Linked DNA regions of Homo sapiens. The protein of the gene in region 1 purifies or fractionates together with the protein of each later gene. This does not show direct contact. Each region holds a gene or a part of one and is shown on either strand. Other genes may lie near its edges. The genes, in order: TUBGCP2, MZT1 and NEDD1.

The links.
Region 2: the proteins of TUBGCP2 (region 1) and MZT1 purify together in Homo sapiens (affinity purification with mass spectrometry; 5 studies listed by BioGRID and IntAct, with this or other methods). This does not show direct contact.
Region 3: the proteins of TUBGCP2 (region 1) and NEDD1 purify together in Homo sapiens (affinity purification with mass spectrometry; 2 studies listed by BioGRID and IntAct, with this or other methods). This does not show direct contact.

Annotation. Positions count from the first base shown.
Region 1 is NC_000010.11:133,284,638-133,292,231, forward strand, and holds part of TUBGCP2 (gamma-tubulin complex component 2), read right to left. Parts: intron 7,411-7,594; exon of another isoform or gene 6,765-7,410; intron 6,671-6,764; exon of another isoform or gene 6,196-6,670; intron 5,333-6,195; coding exon 5,187-5,332; intron 4,384-5,186; coding exon 4,203-4,383; intron 3,673-4,202; coding exon 3,492-3,672; intron 992-3,491; coding exon 819-991; intron 577-818; coding exon 448-576; intron 1-447. UniProt on the Homo sapiens protein: Component of the gamma-tubulin ring complex (gTuRC) which mediates microtubule nucleation.
Region 2 is NC_000013.11:72,707,538-72,710,894, forward strand, and holds the end of MZT1 (mitotic-spindle organizing protein 1), read right to left. Parts: intron 2,809-3,357; coding exon 2,785-2,808; 3' UTR 830-2,784; downstream 1-829. UniProt on the Homo sapiens protein: Required for the recruitment and the assembly of the gamma-tubulin ring complex (gTuRC) at the centrosome.
Region 3 is NC_000012.12:96,944,882-96,952,475, reverse strand, and holds part of NEDD1 (protein NEDD1), read right to left. Parts: intron 6,784-7,594; coding exon 6,627-6,783; intron 1,045-6,626; coding exon 978-1,044; intron 528-977; coding exon 423-527; 3' UTR 1-422. UniProt on the Homo sapiens protein: Required for mitosis progression. Promotes the nucleation of microtubules from the spindle.

The DNA.
Region 1 (7,594 bases):
GGCATGAGCCACTGCACCCGACTGGACAAATTCTTATGAAGCTCTGCCATCGACCCCTTTTTTCAACACCCTAGAGGCACAGACCGGCTGCAAAGCACCTCTGGTCCCAGCAAGATGTGGCTGTCCGCTCTCGGGAGGAGCTAGTGTCCTGCACACCGACCTGGGCAGTCTCCATGCCCGTGCAGTCACCACAAGGCTCCAGAGAGGGCTGAGGGACAGAGCCAGCATCCCCTGTGGGGTGGACGGCAGCGCCGTGCAGCCCCAAGACAGGAAAATGAAGCAATGAAGCATTATGGATCTAAAGCCACCAACGTGCGCTTCCAGATGACACTTCCAGAAGCCTAGAAAGCTGTCTACCAGGAGGGCACAAGGGGGGCGCTGCACCACTGGGCAGAGTGCAGCGAGCGCTGCTTCAGGAGGGCATGCGGGGGCAGAGGAAGAACGCACCACTGGGCGGAGTGCAGCGAGTGCTGCTTGGCGGTTTTGTTGCTGATCCAGACGCTGCAGAGCTGCCGCTCCACGTGCTTGCAGTAGAACATGTGCCTGAAGAGCATCTGGTAGCGAGTGAGGGCTTTCCTGCAAGAGACGTGGCGGCACCTCAGGTGGGCCTCCGTGACCGGCGGCGTCGTGGACACGGCGTCTGTACTCCACAGTCCGCACCGTGGCCCCCGGACAGCCCGTGAATCTCTCGGACACTGAAGGCCGGGGAGAGCCGCCTTGGGTCCTCTGTGGGACGAGGTGGCCACCGCGTGGCACAGTTCTCGCTTCTGCCAAACCTGAGTGAAGATCTGGCAGGTGCCCGAGCAGCCGACCCGCACCTGTTGATGATGAGCGAAAGGGGCCACTTGACGATGTAGTCGAAAGAGAAGGCCTCCAGGCCGCTCAGCGCCAGCTCCGTGGGGTCGGCGTGCGCCATCGCCTTCTCCTGCTTGGTCTCGATGGCCAGGACGCGCAAGAGCTGAGTGATGAGGTCATGGGGCATCAGGTCGATCTTGGAGGGAAGGAAATGAAACAAAGCATCCAGTTTTAAGGAAAAGACCCGAAGTCGCATCCCGATCGCCATCCTCGCTCACAGACCCAGCGCTGACGTAAGGTTCCCTACATTCCGATTCTAAATATCAGAGGCTTTTCAAAAACCCAAACATCTACTGATAAATCAAATTCAAAACTGAACCACTTCCCATCAGAACAAAACAACAAAAATTCAGATGAATTACTTTGTAAATACCCACTGCTGCTGTGGGTGGTATAAGGGAAAAACCGCTAAGGACGGTGAAAGAAACGTGATTCCTTAGGACGAAAACCTTTGTACCATGATAAGCACCAGGCCCAGGTTGAAAAATGAAGCATATTTGACGAGGGACATAATAGTTATTATAAGCAAGTAATACTGTCCTCACGTTAATCACTCGAGTATTTGCTAAGTTCCAACCACCCGCAACAGAGTTCCTACAAAACCATCGCACAACGACAGGACAGGAAATGAAGGGCAGGGGATAAAGCAAGAAGAAACAAGCAGCGGACAGACGAAATCGTGACCATCACAAACGCAGAAATGAGCCCCTGACATCACTTGTCCATCAAATAGCCAAGGTGGGAGCTTTCGCAGGTGTGCAGACAGCAGCGTCCTGAGACTGGACTCCATCAACTCCAGCAAGGTCAGCCTAGTCATACAAGGGCCATGTATTGTGACCCAACAATTTCACTACCAGGAATTTTTCCTACGAAAATATTCCTGCTCCTAACAAGAGACCCCAAAATATCTGAATCAAGAATAGACAGAATGACAAGGAGAAAAGCAGTTCTTCAGTGACAGGGAGACTCGGTGCCCTACTTCTAACCACGGAGAGAACCGCCGGACAGACGATCAGTGAGGAAAGACACGGCCTCAACCCACCTGCAGAACACCACCCCAACAGCACCGAGGGCGCGTCCTCCTCCCGCGCGCACGGAACCGAGGGCACATCCTCCTCCCGCGCGCACGGAACACTCTCCAGGATGGATGTGGGGCCACTACACAAATCAATACATTTCACAAAACTGAAATCACAAAAAGTCTGTTCTCTAACAAGGAGATAAAGTTAGAAACAAGCAACAGAAGGAAAACCAGAAACTTCACAAACATGTGGAAGTTAAACATAAACCACCCACGGCTCCAACAAGAAATCAGAGGGAATCAGAAACACCTCCAGACAAACAGAAATTATGACGCTAGGGGATCAGCGAAGGCTGCACTCGGAGGGATGTTTACAGCTGTAAACTAACTTTTCAAATTAAGAAACTAGAAAAAAGAAGACCACACTGAACCCCTAAGCAGCAGACAGGAGTAACAAAGATGACAGAAGAGAGAAAACAGAAAAATACAGTCAACAAACCCAAGAGTTGGTTCTTTGAAAAGATAATGAAATCGACAAATTTCTAGCTACATCAGCTAAGACGAAAGAAGATTCAAATTACTAAAATCAGAAAAAGAAGGGATATAACTACTAATCTTACAGAAATAAAAAGCAGATACTAGAAACCCATGAACTGTGCACCAGACAAGATGCGAGACAGACAGCCGACCAAGAGGAAAGGGACTGAGCAGACCTGTGGCCAGCAAGGGGCCAAGTCCCCCTCAAAAGTCTCCAACAAAGACAAACCCAGGGCCCAAGAGCTCCCAGGCAAACCCTGCCAAACAGCCAAAGAATCAACACCCTCCTGGGGAGGCGCAGGTGAAGGATCGCTTGAGCCCAGGGGTTCAACCAGCCTGGGCAACACAGACCCCCGTCTCTATTAAAAATAGTAAAAAACAGATAAAACATATATATATTTTAAAAAACGGCTGGGCACGGTGGCTCATGCCTGTAATCCCAGCACTTTGGGAGGCCAAGGTGGGTGGATCACCTGAGGTCAAGAGTTCAAGACCAGCCTGGGAAACATGGTGAAACCCCATCTCTACTAAAAATACAAAAATTAGCTGGGCGTGGTGGCGCGCACCTGTAATCCCAGCTACTCGGGAGGCTGAGGTAGAGCATCACTTGAACCCAGGAGGTGGAGGCTGCAGTGAGCTGAGATCATGCCACTGCACTCCAGCCTGGGTGACAAGAGCAAAACTCCGTCTCAAAAAAAAAAACAAAAAACAACGACAACAAAAAGGCAAAAACAAAAAGAATTAACACCACTCCTGAAACCCTTTCAAAAGACCTGAAACCCTTTCAAAAGACAGATGGAGGGACACGTGAAAACAATTCCACAAGGCCAGCATGACCTGAAAGCCAGGCCCGGACGAGGGCACTGCAGGAAAACCCGAGACCCGCGCCCCTCCAGAGCACAGGCACAAAGACCCCCGATCCCGGCAAGCCGGCCCCGGTAGCCAAGTGAAGGAAACAGACCCTGCGGTCGCCTCACCGGGACGGGGAGTGGGGGACAGGGCTGGCCTCTGCTGTGCTCTCCTCCCAGCCCCTCCGAGGCCTCTGCCACAGGGGACAGCCCCCGGCACCCCCACCCACCTTGAGGTCGTCCTTGAAGGGGTCAGTGTTGGCCGTGCTCATGCGCAGCGCCAGCTCCAGGAGCGCTTCCAGGCGAGGGGGCGTGATGTCCTCCACCGGCTTCCGGAGCTCCTCCTCCGCGAGGTCCATGAAGTGCACGAAGAAGTCGCCCTGGTCCATGAGGAAGTAGCGCTTGATGGACCTGCGCCAGGGAGCAGGCGTGAGCAGGTGCCCACCCGCAGGTGCCCGCCACAGCCAGGGAGCAGGCGTGAGCACGTGCCCACCCGCAGGTGCCCGCCACAGCCAGGGAGCAGGCGTGAGCACGTGCCCACCCGCAGGTGCCCGCCACGGCCAGGGAGCAGGCGTGAGCACGTGCCCACCCACAGATGCTCGCCATAGCCATCACCCTAAAACACACTACAACAGGCTAAGCGCTTGGCTCTCAGGCAGGGGCTGTGCAACCACCACGCAAGCTGTGGCAGGAGGAGCTGAGAAGGGGCTGGTGGGCCCTGGGCAAGGAGGGGAGCTGGGGCCCCTGGACAAGGTGACCGGGGGCCTACACCACCCACTGTGAGTGCCAGGTCCTTGAGCTAGAGACCATCCAGCAGTGCCCACTTTCAAAAAGACAAGGCGGAGCTGCCAGAAGAAACCCAGCGATCTCAGCCCCACGTCCCACAGGTTCCGGTTTCAGAGGGAGGTGAGTGCCCGCACAGGGACAGGGCACGGAATCACCTGAGGTGAGCCACCAGCTCCTTCTCCTCCATCAGGAAGTCCAGCAGCACCTTGCTGGCGTAGTTAAACGCCTTCTCGATCTGCTCCACATACGCCCGCTCTTTTAACGTGTAGATGATCTCTTTAGCCACCGGGCAGGTGACGTCATGGCCACACTCTCTGACCACATTTAGATATTTTCCTGAAAACACAGAAATTCAAAATTTTATTCTCCACATGGTCGATCTCAGGCCCCAGCTGTCTTTGTCTACACAGGAGGCAGTGGAATGGACATTGAATGGGCTCTCCACACGGTCAGTCTGAGGCCCCAGCTGTCTTTGTCTACACAGAAGGCAGTGGAATGGAAACTGGGCTGCATGAGGCGGCTCCACACCCTTGCTCCTTCCCGGTAAATCACTGTCAGCGGCTACAGACTGAGCTGGTGGTGGCAGGGCTTTGCCGTGGCTCTGCACATCTGGAATTTTCTAACCAAGGGCACAGAAATAATTTCGAACAGGCATTATGAGAACCGGATGGCTAATCGCTTCCCAACCCTTTCGTGACGGCCCCGATGTGCCGAGTCCAAGTCCCCGCGCCACTGCCCTGGGTCCAGGTCAGGCCCTAACCTGTGTGGTCAGAGATAGGAAACACTGCCGGCCGCCAGGCGTGTGTCTTTGCTGGTTTTTCCTGACATGCTAGCGGAGTTTTAGAAATCAGAAACAGAAATAGAGAAGGCACCTGTGAGAGAGCCTCGCAGGGTCAGGGACAGAGTCCCGGAGATGGAAACCTGAGGGAACCTGGCAACAGAGACCATCTCAAGGCCTAACTCAGCGCCGCAGCCCAGCCCACGGGCCAGTCCTGACCTCAGCCCCGCATTCACGGACACCAGGGCTCAGGGCAACCACAGGGTGAGGCACAGGCTCCCGGTGGGAGGGCCTGGGCTGCAGGAGACTCTCCAGGCAGAGCTGTGCTGCGCACCCCAAGTCCCCGCCCGCTGCGCCGCACCTGTGCTGAGGATCTTGTCCGCCATTTTCTGCAGGAAGGACGGGATCTGCTGCTGGACGATGGTGTACCGCTGGTCCCAGTACTTGTCGTTGTAATCCTCCTGGATCCTCTCCTTCCGCAGCTCGTGCTCCTCGACCATAAACTCACTAAAACCACAGGGAGCGCTTCGGTCACAGGCAAAGCAAGGGCGCCTGAGGCAGGCGACACTTCTCCAGGCCGGCAGCGCGCAGGGACATTAACAGAGGCCAGCACACTTCCAAGTAACGTTCCACAAGGGCCGAGCCTAATCTACCAGTTACTTCTCAACTGTGGGCTAAAACGAACCTAGGGGCCGGGCACGGTGGCTCACGCCTGTAACCCCAACACTTCTCGGCTAAAACGAACCTAGGGGCCGGGCACAGTGGCTCACGCCTGTAACCCCAGCACTTTGGGAGGCTGAGGTGGGCAGATCACGAAGTCAAGAGATCAAGACCATCCTGGCCAACACAGTGAAACCCCGTCTCTACTAAAATACAAAAAATCAGCTGGGCGTGGTGGTGTGCACCTGTAGTCCCAGCTACTTGGGAGGTTAAGGCAGGGGAATCGCTTGAACCTGGGAGGTGGGGGTTGCAGCGAGCCGAGATCATGCCACTGCACTCCAGCCTGGCAATGGAGCGAGACTCTGCCTCAAAAAAAAAAAGAAAAAAAAAAAAAAGAAAACCAACAAACCTACAAACCTCGCTCTGGAACGGAGTATTTAACCTGGGCTCAGGGAGAATGTACGGTCCGCAGAGATAGGTGGGAAACTGATTTGTCTTTATCTGCACCCACCTCTTTTTGGAATTTAGCATTTCCTTCCATGATGAGCCCAGGCAACAAAATGATGCTCGTGTGGGGTGCGTGGGGCCCTGACACCCAAAATGATGCTCGTGTGGGGTAGGCGGGGCCAACATTGACAGAAACCAGACATCTCCACGTCATCATCTGAACAACTTCAAACATCATTTACGCACTTCAAGTGTGAAGGTGCTTTCTTTAAAGGTGCCCATTATACCAGATTTTATTTGGTCCATTAGTAAAGAAATAACATTTCCACATCACTAATGTATTTTTTGAAAATATTTCAACAACGGTATCTTGACGTAATAGACATAATACAATTCTTTGGGAACTAACATATTTTTATCCATTTAAATATATCGCACTGAAGAGAAGCCGACAGACCCCACCAGATCAGGAAATCCAAGCACCAAAGAGGTTGAAGGACCTAATTGGAGGCAATTTAATGTCCTGCACACAAAAGAATAAGGCCATAAGCAGCTGGGCCATTCCTGCCCTGGGCCCCATGGGCAGCAGGCGGACATCTGCCCGGGGTGTGCTTTCCTGAGACCACAAGCAAAGGAAGGCCAGAGCCCCCAGAGAGGGCAGCACGCGCCCTCCGTGTCCCCCATGTCCCTCCGTGTCCCCCATGTCCCTCCGTGTCCCTGTGTCCCGGGGAGCCCTACCTGTACGGGAGAGGGCAGCATGCACCGTCCGTGTCCCCCATGTCCCTCCGTGTCCCCGTGTCCCTCCGTGTCCCCGTGTCCCGGGGAGCCCTACCTGTACGGGAGAGGGCAGCATGCACCGTCCGTGTCCCCCATGTCCCTCCGTGTCCCCGTGTCCCTCCGTGTCCCCGTGTCCCGGGGAGCCCTACCTGTACGGGAGAGGGCAGCATGCACCGTCCGTGTCCCCCATGTCCCTCCGTGTCCCCGTGTCCCTCCGTGTCCCCGTGTCCCGGGGAGCCCTACCTGTACGGGAGAGGGCAGCATGCACCGTCCGTGTCCCCCATGTCCCTCCGTGTCCCCGTGTCCCTCCGTGTCCCCGTGTCCCGGGGAGCCCTACCTGTACGGGAGAGGGCAGCATGCACCGTCCGTGTCCCCCATGTCCCTCCGTGTCCCCGTGTCCCTCCGTGTCCCCGTGTCCCGGGGAGCCCTACCTGTACGGGAGAGGGCAGCACGCGCCCTCCGTGTCCCCCATGTCCCTCCGTGTCCCCCATGTCCCTCCGTGTCCCTGTGTCCCGGGGAGCCCTACCTGTACGGGAGAGGGCAGCATGCACCGTCCGTGTCCCCCATGTCCCTCCGTGTCCCCCATGTCCCTCCGTGTCCCTCCGTGTCCCCGTGTCCCGGGGAGCCCTACCTGTACGGGAGAGGGCAGCACGCACCCTCCGTGTCCCCCATGTCCCTCTGTGTCCCTCCGTGTCCCTCCGTGTCCCCCATGTCCCTCCGTGTCCCCCGTGTCCCTCCGTGTCCCTCCGTGTCCCTCCGTGTCCCCCATGTCCCCCATGTCCCCGTGTCCCGGGGAGCCCTACCTGTACGGGAGAGGGCAGCATGCACACTCCGTGTCCCCCGTGTCCCTCCGTGTCCCCCATGTCCCCGTGTCCCGGGGAGCCC
Region 2 (3,357 bases), on another chromosome or scaffold:
TGTGGCTATTGTGAATAGCCTTTTCAGAATAGACAAAAGGTAGAAACAACCCAAATGTCCACCATATATATAAAAGAATACCTGTCTCCCATGTATATATGAGACATATTCATCCTTAAAGAGGAAATCTGGATACATGTTATAACATGGATAGATCTTGGAGACGTGCTGTGTAAAATAAGACGAACACAAAAGGACAAATATGATTCCACTTATATGAGGTATCCAGAATAGTCAAATTCATTGACAAAAAAGTAGGAAACTGTTTACCAGGGGCTGGGAGGAGGAAGCAATGGGGAGTTACTGCTAAACAGGTACAGAGTTTCAGTTTGGGATAAGAAAGTTCAAGAGATGGACAATAGTGATAGTTACAATACAATAAGAATATTCTGAATGTCACTGAACTATGAAACTTAAAAATGGTTAAAAAGGGCAGGGCATTGTAGCTCATGCCTATAATCCCAGCACTTTGGGAGGTTGAGGCAGGCAGATCATCTGAGGTCAGGAGTTTGAGACCAGCCTGGCCAACATGGTGAAGCCCCGCCTCTACTAAAAATACAAAAAATTAGCCAGGTATGGTGGCAGGTGCCTGTAATCCCAGCTACTCGGGAGGCTGAGGCAGGAGAATCATTTGAACCCAGGAGGCGGAGGCTGCATTGAGCCAAGATCATGCCAATGCACTCCAGCCTGGGTGACAGAGTGAGACTCCATCTCAAAAAAAAAAAAAAAAAAAGGTTAAAATGGTAAATTTTATGTTCTGTATCTTTTGTCCTATAGAAACACAAGTTGAATTAACAAAAGCATATATTAAAACAAAAGTACAGGCCAATACCACCAAAATGGTTTTATTTTTGTCATTGACAACAAGCACAACACTGCAATTGTATCATTATTTTGTTTAGTTTCTTAAATATTACTTAAGTATGCATTAAAAATATGTTTACATTTTAAAAATGTGACACTTTAAAGAAGTCCTCTGTAAACACGATCCCTTCTCAATATATTTTCCTGCTTTGTTTCATACATAAATAACTTAATCTACAAAGTCATAAATAATACTATCAACTCTTATGGCCTGGAAGTATATACAAATTTTGGAGTCTGACAAAAGTGTTCTTTATGATTTTATAAATAACACATAGTATTTGTAGTGTTGATTATAAATCAAATGACTTTTTACAAATTCCTACTGTCTCCTCAACCTGTTCTACCAGTAACAGATCTTCCAGTTTACTTGGTTGGTAAAGATGCCAGGCATTTAAAAAGTCAAAATGGTCAAAATTCTATATTAAAAAAAAAAAAAGGCAGAGAAGGTTGCTATTTAAATATTACCAAATCTTAATAAAACCACTTCAGCTTGTCTGAAAAACAAAAAATGCTAGTAAAGAGTGAATGCTTGTACAATCATATAAATGGTACTCAATAAAATCTAAAATTTAAGAAATAATAAAATCAGATGAAATCCATATTAGTTTTGCAAAAAAACTCCACTGAGATTCTATTACAGGAACAGAATCAATACTATTCTACATTTTCTAAAATTTATTTCTAATCTTCACTTTGATGAGTTAAAATTTTAAAGGCAAGAATAATGACAAACAAAACAATTCTGAAAAGCCATACTTATAATCCTTGACATCAAGATGTTAAAAAGGTTTTTTAAAAAAAGCCATACTTGAGATTCCTAATATAGAACATTTGATTGTTTAGTTTTGTTTAATGACTGGAAATCCTTATTTCTTCAAAAAATAGCAAGTATCCTTTGAAACACATCACCCATCTAATAAGATTGTTTAGTTTTGTTTAATGACTGGAAATCCTTATTTCTTCAAAAAATAGCAAGTATCTTTTGAAACACATCACCCATCTAATAATTTATTAAATAACCATTCAAGATTTATTAGGTAAGCACTAAAATTACTTTTATGTAATAAAAGTAAATAGGAATTTTGCATGTTTGTTGTTTCATTTTACAAATTTTTTTATTCCGTTATTTATAGGATATAAAACTTTAAGAAAACATTCTCAACTAACATTCTCATTAGATGTAAATGATTCAAATTACAAATAATACTAACCTAAGCATTGTCATTACTTTTAAAATCCAAGTTTCTCAAAGTTTGATTTTTTTACTCAATACAAAAATGACCTGGTTCACACTATTAGCTGCCCAACAAACTGTTTGAAAAACTAAATATTCTTTGTTCAAGAGTAGATTACAAGAAATGTTTTCCATGCTCTTATTTCAAAAAACAAGATTCTGATATACATAATGAATCTAAATAAAAATTCACAAGTGGTGGCTGAAATCCTGTCAACTTTCAGCCCAATACAATATAAATCCACAGTTATAATGCATAAACAATTCAAAATTAAAGTTTATAATGGAAATGTCAACAAGTCATAACTACTACACATTACTACTGATGGGTTCCACTATACTTCAACCTGGCACAGCAGATGTGCACATCTGATAGACAGACTGCTTAGAAAATTAAAGCTATCAGAGCTATAAATAAGGAATACATAAATATGAACATAGCAATGCCAAAGCATTAGAGCTGTTAAAAAAAGTGAATAAGATGTGATGTAAACACATCTGATAGTTCTCTCTGTAAGCCACTTTCCACTGATTTATAAAGCTATGGTTTTATAATTCTTTTAAAAAGTAAAATTTTTCTACACTGCTGCATGCAGTAATTTCATTGTACATTCTCAACTACAATGCAATCTTCAAACCCTCTTGCAGAGCTTGACATATCTCATCAGAATTTCTCCAGAAAGTCAGCTTGTCATATTTTCAGCAGCCTAGAACAAGAAAGTAAGATTCATTACAATAAAACCATGGAAAAAGAGGCATCATGAAGATAAATTTGTCAATACTGCACTGTCATTAACAAACAACTATTCCCCATAAAACAGAACCACTTTTATCACAGTAATGCAGTGCTTTTCATGTTTTGCTATACATCAGGACTACCTTTTGAATGTACAGTTAACAGTCCACAGGCTAACAGTGGAAAATAGTTATATCACCTAAAATAATAGTTAAGAGCACAAAAAACATACTGCTACTTGAAACATTAACCTATGGCAGACCTGTTGCCACAGACTTCATTAGTTTGTCTGTTTCTGTGTTTTATTCTAGTAATAGGGATTAAAAATGAAAAAGACCTTTCATGCTACAAGGCAGAGAGAACAAGAGCAAAAGATGAATAATGAACATCTTATCTAATCCTGTCTCATCTACATCCCTAACTACTACTCTTTCCCAGGTGATTCTGAAGAAATTCCAAGATACCATATCATCAATAAATACTTTGATACATTATTTCTAGAGACTTAAACAAATCACCA
Region 3 (7,594 bases), on another chromosome or scaffold:
CTCCATAAAAATAGAAGGCATATCAAACTCTTTAAATCTCAACTAGCCCCAAAAATTTGAAAGGCAATTTGTCAATCAAAAATATATGTTAAAAAAGATGACTAAAAAACAAACATAACCAATTTTTATGCACAATTTTCTTCTCTTATGAAAAAGGGCACTTAGTGGATGGCTAAAGCTTTCAAAAAATAAAGATCCTGTTGACTTTCCTATTGGGTAGATGACATACTGTACAATTTTTAATATAAAAATATACATATTTTTAAGATGAAACAGTTGTTGGTATAAAATCCCATCATCCTTTTACTCTTACTTGAAAAACATTTTTTCCCTGGAGGCCATGAAAACAATACTGATTCTATGTAGTTCTGTGTTGCCAGAAACTTCCCAAATTACAGAACATTAAGGTATTCACTGAAATTTCAAAAGTGGGCCCGTAATCTTTTGTTTTCTTCTCGTAGTCTTTCAATTTCAGCCACTAAACCTTCATTCACTGAGTATCTTTCCAGCAAAGAATGCATTTCATTCTAGAAAAACAGGAAAATGCTTTTTAAATTATTGATATTTCACATTTATTTGGCAGGCTATGTTTAATATACTTTCAGCTATCATTTCTCTCATGTTCAATTAACTAGGTGAATGATATTTCTTGTACTTAACAACTTACTAGTTTGTTAATATAAATGGAAGATCGTTGGTGAAATTAGTATATTTGGAAAATTTATATTTGCACATTTAAAATGCTTTTTGCTTACTTATCAGGAAGAAAGCCATGGAAAAAAGAAGGCTTAAGTATCTCAGAGGTTAAAAAGGAGGTGACCAGTTAAAATCTATTTTACTTATTTAGTCTATAAAACTCCCTATTTATCTTAGAAACTAAACAAAACAACTAAAATATATTACCTTTCATGGATTTTTAAAAATTCACACAACTCTACTTTCATTTAAAATATTAAAATAAAATTTGCCATACATACCAGTTGCATATGAAACTGTTTAATCATCTCCACTTGCAAATTCACAATGTCCCTATGGCATGCTTCTCTAGGAAGAATGTAAAATACTTTTTAGAATTACAATAGTTTAACCAATTCTAGGTCATTCAAGAAACTCACTAAACTTTTTCATTTGCCAAATTACTGAATGTTAATAATTACTATAATAATAAAAATACCAATGCACTGAGCATTTATTCACTATGTGCTAGGCACTGTTTCCTTTACTTTAAATGTAAGAACTCGTTTAAAATATCTTCACAAGTAGATGCAATTATTACAGGTCCATTTTACAAAAGAAATAACTTAACCAGAGTAGATATAACTTGTTCAAAGTCACACAACCAGTAAATGATGGAGCTAGGATGTAAACCCAGGCTGTTTAACCCCTGAACTCTCCGATACTATATTCCTTTATATAGAAATTGTCATTAAGACACAAACTTATCTTACAATGAAATACAGAAAATTCACTAGGTTAGAAAGATCATTTTATTATTATCAGTTTAGCTATTGAAAAAATGTACTTTCAGTATAAAGTGGCAATTTGGGTGGATATAGCATGGCTTACTCAATAAAATACAATTAATTCATGCCTACAAAAGAATATGTAAAAATTATTAAGTATAATAACAAAAGAAACACTCAGTCACCCACCACACAACTTATGAACTAGAACATTACCAAATAATAGAAGCTTCCTGTGTGTTCCTGTCTGATTCTATCACTTAACTCTTGGGAAAAAGCCCAAGAAAGAAGTCATTACTCTCCTGAATTTTGTTGGACAAAGAAATGCTTTTGCTTTTTTAATACATTTGTATAACATATAATCTGTAGTCAATGTTTTCATTGTGCATGTTTTTGAGCATTACAAAAAAGGGTACCATATAGCTTATATTTAAGAAATAATTCAATATTGTTTTGAAGATTCATGTTTTATATATCTGTATATCATTAGTTTGTACTGGTGTATCTATTTTCCTGTTAATATTTTGACTGTTTTCAAGTTTTTACTATTCCAACGTTGTTATAAACAATCATGTATTATCTCCAAACCCACATGTGCCAATGTCCATTGATGATATAACCAACTGTAACTCAAGTGTATACTTTTACAAAATCATGCAAATTGTTTTCCAAAGGTAGTTATCAATGGATGTCACCAGTATAACAGAGTTCTTCTTGCTCTATATCATCAAGACTTAGTATTACCAGATTTTTTATATTTTCCCATTTACTCGGTGTGACACGGTATCTCATTGCATTTTTAGTTCTCTGATTAATTGTGAAGTTGAATATCTTTCCTGTGTTCATATACCATTCCTCTTCCTTGAAATGCTTTTTCATATCTTTTTCTTATTCATTTATAAGCATTCTTTACATAATCTGATCCTTTGTTATTTATATGAGAACTGCAGGTATCTTCTTATCCCTTCACTCTGTGATATTGTGTGATAAATAGTTCTTATTAATGTGCTCAAATATACTAATAATGCAGTCAAATTTACCAATGTATTTTTATAGGCAGTGCATTATTTTATTTTTAATGATTTCCTACCATGAAGTTATAAACTTTTATAAAGTCAACTTTTAATCTACATGGAACTGATTTTTCTCAATTGCATGGAATCTATACTTATTTTTTACAGGAAAAAACAAATGTCACAACACAACTTACTGATTATTCCATTTTTTGCACATAAATCTGCAATGCTACCTCTCTATTATTTCCATATATGCATAGGTTTCTTTCCAGCTTATTTCATTCCTTTGGCCAGTATGTCATCCCTGTGCCATGCTATATATCTTAATTATACTTTAATAATTAAGTGTATTCATCTGACAAATAAGTCCCCTTCAACCTTATTCTTCTCTGAAATGTCTTAGTTATTCTTAGATTTTTTTCCTTCCATACATATTTTGGAATCACTTCATCATCTTCTTCCAAATCCCAGCTGGGATTTTAATTGGAATTGCATTCAATCTACTGACCTATTTAGGTGAACTAATATCTTTATAATCTCTCCATTTATTTAAATGTTAATGCTTTTAAACAAAAAAAATTTTTAATGTTTTTCTACAAAAATCTTCACTACCTTTGGTAGATTTATTCCCAAGTAACTTATTGTTTTTCTGTTCTAACTATGAGGGTATTTTTAAAAATTTCCTCTTCTACTTTCAATTATAGTAAAAACTGTATTGAAAACAAACAAAAACACTGTATCAGGGAACCATTGAGGTAGCCAGGACTTGAAGGGCCATGATCTTGCAAACGAAAGACTACTAGGTAAGCTCTTCATTTACCTCTGTTTTTCCTTCTAGAGTATGTGCTGATTCCACAGTGTGGAGAAGAAACCGAGCTGAAGCAGTGGCCTGGAGGTTGAGATAGTCTCGCTGGGTGGGGGAGTATTAAGAGTTTGGGCCTACCAAGGTAGCCAAGGCTGTAAGAGCCAAGGTCTTGAAGAGAGGAGGCCTGCAGAAAACTAAGCCTGAAACTGTGGAATTTCCCCTCAAGACATCTGTTGACTTCTAAGCAATGCTCCCCCTGGGTTAGATGGCAGGAAACCAACCAAAAAACAAGTAACTAAAGAGCAGAGAAAGTATTCTGGAAGTCTTGTGATGCTGGCAAAATAGAGGCTGAAGTTTGGGACCCACCAAGGTAAAAAAGACAGTGAATACTCCAGACATTCAGCTGATGTCCTAGAAAAGACTACACACTAGGAATAAAGGCAAACTGGAAACAAACTAGTGCTAAGAAAACCTGAACCTAGTAACCAAAGGATCAAAGGGATCTGCTTGCCAAAAGAAACTTAAATCTTCTTAATAGACAACAGAAACAGATGCACAGATTTCCACTTAGGATGTATTAGGTTGGTGCAAAAGTATAATTTCTCAACTCTAATAACGAAAACAAACCTGATAACCTATAAAATCATATTATTTTAAATTCAACCGAGAGCTGAGAATGGAAAGAAATCTAAATGAACTAAAATCCAGAAAATGAGGAGTTCCTCTTAGGAGAAAAGAGACCCATGACTAGGAGAAAAGAGACCCATCTTCATGCCCTTGACAGAGTAAAAAGAACTAGCTGAAATTTTAATAAGATTTTTAAAAGCCAAGTAAACACTGCTTGATAGTTTAGAATTCCAAGGGGTCCCAGCCACAAGGAGAGTCTCAATTTACTCACCAACTTTTTCCCACAAGCCTTCATTCAGCGCTCATGTAAAAAAAGTAGGGACAAGTGTAACAGGAGGGCTGAGGGAGACTCCCTAAGATACAGATGCACAGAGCCTGGTGAAACCTTAGGGCAGCAGAGAAGAACTGAGAGTAACCCCTCTAAGGCACTCCAGGCTCTCATGGAGAAGATGGCAGCCACGGGAGGATGGCTGAGAAAGAGGTCCTCAATACCCTCTCTGTCCTGCCAATGATAGGTGTAGATGAACACCTAGTCTGATGAACACCTAGGCAAATGGCAAAACAAGTGAATTTATGGAAATCCTCTGAGCCACTCTGGGTCTTCACTGCGTCCCAGGCAGAGGCTGCCTATGGTCAAAGGGCAGAAGAGCTGAGAGAAGTCCCTACCCACCACTCCTAGGTGCAGACATGCAGCACAGGGCAGCAAAACCAAGAGGCACTGACTGTACGTCTTCACCAAACGTGCTGCAGCAGCTCTGCAGGGCTGAAAGTGGGACAGACACACTTCTCCTGAGGCACAGAAAGCCAGGAACAGGTTAGATAGTGAAAAACAAGCTCCAGCCACCCCGAAAGCTGGCAGCAGGGCAGAAATGCACAGCGATTTCAGAGTTGCTCCAGCACTCAGATCCCTGGGTCTGCTGAAGGAAAGGCCCTGAGCCCACTGTCCTCAAATCATCTGAAGCCAGTGGTGAACTGACACCCAAATGCTTGTTGAATAAATGGGTAATAAATAGACAGCACCCATTACTCCTGTGCTTAAAAACTCTGATGGCTCTCCATTACCTGTGTGTTAAGACCTTCACAACTGTCCCTCAGGCCTGGTCTCTTACCACGGTGCCTTCTCTCTGCAAACATTCCTAGAATGTATGATCATGTCTCTGCTCAAGCTGTTCCCACACACATCAGTATAAAATAAAATCTCTTCAGTGTACCTTTCTAAATCTGCCCCCACAGAAGAACTGCTCCCTTTCTGTGATTTCAACATCACTTTGCTCACACTGTATTATAGTCAGCTGTATCCAGACAGTTCTACTATTATGCCATAAATATTTATGCACTCCTGAAAAAAACGTATATTCTTTAACACTGTGTATTAAAAATAACAGAACTTAGGGAAAAAGGATTAGGGCAAAGCACTCAAAAACCTATGCAACTTTGTAACCAGAGCACAACAAAAACAATTAAATCCTAATAAAAATACTAACATAGTTAAAAAGACATAGTAAAAATCTAATAGATAATTATTGAATAATACCCTTACTGTGAAGAAGTGATGGTCACTTAATGGAAGAGGATAGAAGGATTGCGGCTATCAAGTTACAGAGGCAAGAGCAAAATGCCCAAAGATGGGAAATAATCACAAAATAAGTACTTCTAACAGACCACACAGCCAAGCCAAGAGGAAGTGAATAAAAAGAGATGGATGCTGACGGGGTTTGCTGCATTCAGCTGTGTTCAGGTGTACTTTATTTTGGCTGCTATTACACGAACAAACAAAATTTCCTCATCATATTGTCAACAGTGTTCTATTCTACTGATCCCAAATGAATTAATTCACATTAAGAGAAACACACATGGCAGAACACACTGCACCTAGCCCAACTACATCACAAGGCCTTTGTGGCAGATCATTTGATGTATCCTTAGTATCTGGTACATATACTAGGTAGGGTAAATGCCAAAATTACAATTTTTCTTTAAAAAGTATTTTTCGACATTTAAAAATATATTTTAAAAGTATTTTAAAACATTAAAAGGAAGCATGCACCAACAAAAACTGCACATTTTCTCCAACATTCTTGCTTACGGTAATCCAAATCTGAGCTACAACATTAACTATAGGTTAGAAAGGAAAAAAGGCACCAATGATTTTAATAATTGAAGATAGCTTCCAAAAATATTGAGATGATAAAAGAAAGCAGCATTGTAGAACACATTCTTAGAATGTTCACAATTCGAAGGATGAGACAGACAAGGATAAGTCTGAGAAAGAATTTTTTTTAGATTAAGTATTACATTCTGATGCATTCTATTGGAAAACATTCAGAATTGTGCTTTAAAGTATCTTTTTCTACTACATTATTGCACACAGCATACCTAATAGATCTATGAACATACTGCAGGTTAAGAACCCAATTTAAGCTTACCAGAACTTGTCCACATTTTAATAATAAAAAAAGTTCACAATGGCAGTCTACCTGCTAGACTGCCCTGCTGAGTTACCTAATAATTGCCCTAGGTAAATGTGCCTTTTCCTGGCTCATAATCAATAAATGCAGTACGAAAAGATCAACAAAACTCATTATGTTTTCTATGGCTTTAGGATTACCAGAACCTAGACAATAGTAACCAACAACATTATCTATAGTTCTGGTTTTACATCTAAAAAAAAAACAAGTAAGGTCTAGATAGAAGGAGTAGTTTCTCAATTACTACCTAAAGTCATCCAACGTTTCCTGTATCATGTTCTGAATAAAACGAATTTGAATGGAAGTCAATGGTGCATTTTGCCGGTTATTTCCAATGCTGTCGGCTATTTTTTCTGAGAGTGAACTGGCAACTCCAGCAGTGACAGAAGATGCTATCTTTGGATCTAAAATAAAGAATGAAGAAAATATTAATAGTCAACTTGGACTGAGAGACATCAAACATTTCTAAATAAGATTTGGCATGTGCAAACTTGAAAAACTGGCAAAGAAGAGTGTTCCTGTGACATTTAGAAAAATTCACTGTCTGGAATACAAATCTTAGAAACTTTCTATAACATTATTTCTAATAGTCATTTATCTATATATATAAACTGCCAGCTGTCTAATGTAATACCACATGACAGAGGGATTAATCTTGAAGAATCTATGAACCATTTCCTCTTATAAAAGATGAATGTGACAAGCTGCACCATAAACTAGATAAACCAAGACTATTAAAAACAAACCGAAGGAAAATAGGAGTAAAGTACTGCTACAGGAAAAGCCTTAGAGTTTAAGCTAATGCAATATATATCCACAGAAAACTTCAAGCAAAATATAGATATTTATATGAGAGTTGATTGTAAACAAAGAGTTGCTTTGTGTAGATAACTCTTAGAGTTAAACCAAATATTCCTTTAAATGTGATGAAGTTTGTATGGGTCTGCAGCACAAACTCTAAGGATAAGACTTTAATATGAAAGAGAAAAAGACATTTTCAGGTAGTTAACCAACCCTTTTCAAAGGGTCCTACATAATAATTCTATCTCTACCATATTAAAGACACATATTACACTGAAAATCTAATTCACACCAAAAGATCAAATCAACGTACCTGAATTTAACGATTCATATCCATTTCATTGTCTTTAGTAACACTCACACAACAGAAGTGTCCACAAACTTTAAACTCTTTGAACATTTTTAGTCTATGAT